2 linked regions of the Homo sapiens genome follow. The protein of the gene in region 1 purifies or fractionates together with the protein of each later gene. This does not show direct contact. Each region holds a gene or a part of one and is shown on either strand. Other genes may lie near its edges.

What was found. Proteins that work in one complex are often made in the same cells at the same time.
Region 2: the proteins of TMEM134 (region 1) and UBXN4 purify together in Homo sapiens (affinity purification with mass spectrometry; one large-scale study listed by BioGRID and IntAct). This does not show direct contact.

Annotation. Positions count from the first base shown.
Region 1 is NC_000011.10:67,463,624-67,466,304, reverse strand, and holds part of TMEM134 (transmembrane protein 134), read left to right. Parts: exon of another isoform or gene 1-1,031; intron 1,032-1,037; exon of another isoform or gene 1,038-1,204; coding exon 1,205-1,249; intron 1,250-1,448; coding exon 1,449-1,502; intron 1,503-1,608; coding exon 1,609-1,691; 3' UTR 1,692-2,681.
Region 2 is NC_000002.12:135,779,807-135,782,817, forward strand, and holds part of UBXN4 (UBX domain-containing protein 4), read left to right. Parts: intron 1-376; coding exon 377-579; intron 580-2,942; coding exon 2,943-3,011. UniProt on the Homo sapiens protein: Involved in endoplasmic reticulum-associated protein degradation (ERAD). Acts as a platform to recruit both UBQLN1 and VCP to the ER during ERAD.

The DNA.
Region 1 (2,681 bases):
GCAATCTCGGCTCACTGCAACCTCTGCCTCCTGGGTTCAAGGGATTTTCATGCCTTAGCCTCCAGAGTAGCTGGGATTACAGGCGCGCGCCACCACACCTGGCTAATTTTTTGTATTTTTTTAGTAGAGATGGGGTTTCACCATGTTGGCCTCAGGTGATCCACCCACCTCAGCTTCCCAAAGTGTTGGGATTACAGGCGTGAGCCACCACGCCCAGCCCTTTTTATTTTTTAGAGACAGGGTCTTGTTCTGTTGCCCAAGCTGGAGAGCTGTGGTATGATCACTGCAGCCTCAAACTCTTGGACTCAAGCCATCCTCCCAGCTGAGCCTCCCTAGTAGCTGGGACTACAGGCATGTACCACCATGCTCAGCTAATTTTTTTTTTTTTAAAATAATAATAGAGACAAGGTCTCACTATGTTGCCCAGGCTGGTCTTGAACTCCTGAACTCAAGTGATCCTCCTGCCTCAGCCTCCCAAAGTGCTAGGATTACAGCCATGAGTCACCACGCCTGGGCTGGGCTAATTTTTTTTTAACCTTTTATAGAGATGGGGATCTTGGTATGTTGCCCAGGCTGGCTTCAAACTCCTGGCCTCAAGCGATCTTCCTGCCTTGGCTCCCTGAAGCACTGGGATTACAGGCATGAGCCACCACACCTGGCCCACCCTTTTTGAAGTAGTCTGGGCAATGCACAAAGCAGTCCATGGTGGCCCCCCAGTCCCCCAGGCTTACTACCCCCCTTGTTGCAGAGCCCAAAGTCCAGCTCCTCATTCCCCCATCACTCTTCTAACTGGGGACCCAGGACTCCTGCACTGCCCTGTTCTTACCCCCTATATCCCAATCACCTGTACTGTTAGCTTTCAGGTTCTTATTGGTTCCTCCACTAAGGACGGGCCATGAGGGCAGGGACCTTATCTGCCCTTCAGGGCGGAATTCCCAGTACCAGGCACGCAGTAGGTGTTCCATAAATGTTTGCTGAATGACTAAAAGCCCACCCCAAGGAACAAAGAAAAATCTCTCCTTTCACACACTTCCCAGGGCCTGCTCAGTGCCTTGCTCTGGAAACAGAGCTTGGTGAGCTTCCTGGGGAGGGTCTCTGCCTAGGGCACCTTCAGCTCAGGTGGTGGGTGAGCCGGGCTGGGGGTGGGAGCCCCCGCCCTCACCACTGCTCCTGCCCCCACCCCCGCGGCTCCGTCTGTGTGCAGTGCTGATCCTGGTCGGCGTGGGACTGGAGGCGACCCCCTCTCCAGGTGAGCGACCCTCCCGCCCCCACAGGCAGAGGACACCCCTGTCTTGTGTCCACGGGTCCACGGCAAGCCCTCCCACCTCCCGGCAGTACACGGCTCCTTTTCAGCTGGGAGTGAGGCTTGCCCGGGCAGTCAGCGGCAGCCCGGAAGGCCTCGAAGCCTCCGCCCCCTCGCCCTGACCGGGCTCTGGTCCCTCCCGCAGGTGTCTCCAGCGCCATCTTCTTCGTGCCGGGCTTCCTGTTGTTGGTGCCTGGAGGTGCGAGCGGGCACCGGGGCGGAAGGGGCGGGGGCTGTGGGGCGGCACTGGGGGCGGTGTTGCGGGGAGGGGCGGGGCTTCTGCGCTGACAGGCCCCGCCCCGCAGTCTATCACGTGATCTTCATCTACTGCGCGGTCAAGGGCCACCGGGGCTTCCAGTTCTTCTACCTGCCCTACTTCGAGAAGTGATCGCGGCGCAGCGTGGACCCCTTGCGCCCATGGGGGCGCCCCTCTTGCCCTGTTCCGTTCCCCTCATCTCAAGGGAAGAGGCCCTCCAGGACCCTCGAAACCCCAGCCCCTAGGGAGTTTGCTCAGGAAGTTCGGGGCATGCAGGCCTGGCCCTGGGAAAGCCGCCCGTCGCCTGCTCTGTGCCTTAACTTATTCTCGGGCCGTGCGGCTGCTAGGTTGCTGTTATTTTGTGCTAATAAAAGAGTAATTAATTCCACCAGAGGCAATTGCTCTCCTCCTGTCCTGCCACTGCTAGCCCAGCCCACCAGCCTGACCACAGCCCCCCTCCCAAGGACTGACCCTGACGCTGAAGGGCTTCGAGCACCACCGAACGCGTGGCAGCCCTGATGCTGAGGCTTGCCCAAGGGCACGGGGCATGTTAGGGGCAGAGCTGGGCGTAGGACTCCTGCCTTGCCAGCCAGGAGCCGGCCGGAACAGCCTGCCCCACCCCCAGCCCTTGGATGACTCAACCAGCCCGTCTCTGTCTGGTGGCCCTGGCCGAGGGCACGCAGAGATGACGCAGGCCTGGGACCTGGAGGCTGGTATCCTAGTTCCAGCCTGGCTCTGGGGCCCTGGGCTGCCACAGCCAGCCCTGAATGTGGGCCATGTCAAGGCAATGGCCCAGCCCCCTCCACCCACTGCCCTCCTTCCCAGTCCCAGAGGTTGGGAGAACCTGGGGGCAGAGGGCATAGGAAGCCGCGCCTGACAGACACCCTCAGTGGTCAAAGACTTAGAAATGCAGAACGTTAGAAACAAACCATCTCAGAATTTTGGAACATCAGCATTTCAGAATCTTACGAAACAAGAAACAGAATCTTTGAGAAACCTGAAATCTGAGATCATAGTAGCTACCAGTTATCAATTTGTTGAAAGACCCCAGGATGGCCGGGCACGGTGGCTCAAGCCTGTAATCCTAGCACTTTGAGAGGCCAAGGTGGGAGGATCGCTTGA
Region 2 (3,011 bases), on another chromosome or scaffold:
ATATATAATATACAATATTATACAATTATATACAATTATTATATAAAATAATTATATAAAATAATTTTATAATTATAATATATTATATAAAATATAATATATATAATATATAAAATAATTGTATACTATACAATTATACAGTTATTATACAATTATATACAATTGTATAATATTGTATATTTATCTTTAAAAACTTCTGGGAGTCTTCAGAAGTTTATATATACGTGAAAAACAGCAAAAGATATCATTTTACCCTCTTGAAGTAAACTAAAATTGGTAGGACCTCCTTTTCCAGATAAAAGTTTCATCTGGAACCTTGGGCGTGATGTGATTGTGCTAACGTAGTCTTTATCTAGGTTTGTTTATTAATTTCTAGGCAGGAAGACCAACTGCATCCATTGTACACTCTTCCAGCGGAGACATTTGGACCTTGTTGGGAACAGTGCTTTATCCATTCCTTGCCATCTGGAGATTAATTAGCAATTTCTTGTTTAGTAATCCGCCTCCCACACAGACTTCAGTGAGAGTAACATCGTCAGAACCCCCAAACCCTGCATCATCTAGCAAATCAGAAAAAAGGTATCTGTGTGTGTTTTCCCCATTTATAAAATATGTAAGTCATGCCCAGTATCTTTTTTAAGTAAAAAGTTGAGTACTTTGCCTTTCTGTATATGTCCTCTCCAGTTCCCACGGTGGAGGAGAAAAACTCCGATGCTCTGAAACTTTATTACATCATCTCTACTGCAGAGCTCACTACCTGCGTTTTCTCAGCCAGCTTTATAAAACCAATTTTTTGGAAAGCAGCTTCACCTCTACTGGTTTATTGTTTCATTCATTGAAGTTTCTTTACCCCATAACTATCAAGGCAGATTTTTTTTTCTAGTAACCTCTTTCTTGCTAACCATGTTTGCTTGACAAGATAGTTCATTGCATTAATCGTTCAGGGTCATCTTGCATAATTACTGTAGGTGAACTACTCTGTTTTGATCATTTTAACCCTGTTGGTTCTTTTATCTACCGGCTGACAGCCTTGTCTGGATCATTCAGAGAAGGACCAAATTGTGGAAACAGGTTATTGCTTTGAAAATTCTCTCTCAGAGAATTATTTTGGACTAATCCCTTAACCAAGAGACCAGGGCCTGATGCAGTGGCTCACGCCTGTAATCCCAGCACTTTGGGAGGCTGAGGCGAGAGAATTACTTGAGCTTATGCATTCAAGACTAGCCTGGGCAATATAGTGAGACCTTGTCTGTACAAAAACAATTTAAAAATTTGCCAGGCACATGTCTGTGGTCCCAGCTACTTGGGAGGCTGAGATGGGAAGATCACTTGAGCCCGGGAGATTGAGGCTGCAGTGAGCCAAGATTGTGCCATTGCACTCCAGCCTGGGTGACAGAGTAAGAGTGAGATCCTGTCTCAAAACAAAAACAAAACAACTTTTATAGCAGATAGCATGCAATGGTTAGCATAGTAATACAACACTGACAATTTTAACTCCTATCTTTGTTAAGATTTTATATACTTGAAACAGGTTAATGGGAAGTATTTTCCTAGAAAGTAAGTTTATGCCCCTTTCTAATAATTACATAATAATGTAACTTACTGAAATGGACACCGCTGTTAAGCACTCTATGAGGCCTTTTATAGGCATTATAACAAATCTTCATGCCAGTCCTATGTGATAAGTAATAGAAATTCTTTTTTCTCTGCCCTCAGTATGGAGAAGCCCTAGTCATGTGTTTATGGATTCCATAGGTAATGACATATAAGTATTGTGATTGGGCTGCTTTGTCCTTTATCTTATTTCATAACTGTTAGGCAGGAAGACCAGTTACCTACTAAGTACGTTACTGTAGTGAGGACAGAGGGAAGCTCAAACAAGGCTGAATCTTAAAACTCTTACTGAGCAATGGGTGGGAGCATTTAATACTGAATTACTGTAATATAGGAGAGCTCGTTGTATGGATTTTTAAAACTTTTTTCAGGCTGGGTGTGGTACCTCATACTTGTAATCCCAGCTCTTTGGGAAGCTGAGGTGCAAGGATCACTTGAGGCCAGAAGTTTGAGACCAGCCTGGGCAACATAGTGAGGCTCCATCTCTACAAAAAAAACTTTTAGTGAGCTGTGTGTGATAGCGTGTGCCTATAGTTTCAGCTGCCTGGGAAGCTGGGGCAGGAGGATTGTGTGAGCTCCAGAGTTTTGAGGCTGTAGTGAACCGTGATCGTGCCACTGCACTCTAGCCTGGGCAACAGAGGGGACACCCTGTCTCAAAAAAGAACAAAAAACAACACTTTTTTCAAATAAGAGAAAGGTCTTAGATTAGAGCAAAGGATGGAATAAAAGGTGTGTCAAAGAGAGGGTGAAGCTTTGTGTTCCACCATTATTTTTCCTTTTTTCTCTCCCCTCTAGAGTTATAAAAGTCTGTTGGCTTAAATTTTATCCTTATACCTTTGTATTTTCAGAATAGGAAGTCCTCTTCATTCTTAATTGTTTATAAATAAGTCATTCTTGAAGATTTTGCGAAGGATTTAAAATTGACCCTTTCTGTCAAGCTGACTGGAGCTTTGGATAGTCTCTAGGGTGCTAAGTTACAAATGTTTTAGTAGATAATGTCGGCTTGCATAAATAACAAAGGAAAGATTAGTTGGCAAATGGTCACACTCCTCTAATGCTTATTAAGTCACTAAGAAACACAATGGAAATGGAATATATGATTTGGCTGGCTGGCTTGACTTAGAGATCAGATGAAGCTAAACTACCAAAGACTGCTAAAGTCTAGTACTGTGTTAGTAGATATAATGGTCTCCCATGGACTTTCCTTACTTTAGATGGCATTAAAAGTAAAACTTAGTTGCCTGTACTGATGGAAGTTGGAAACAGCTTGTATTACTATTGTTTTTATTTTATGACATCTTCCCCTTGCTCCCTCTTTTTCGTATCAGGGAACCAGTGAGAAAAAGAGTGCTGGAAAAACGTGGAGACGACTTTAAAAAGGAGGGGAAAATTTATAG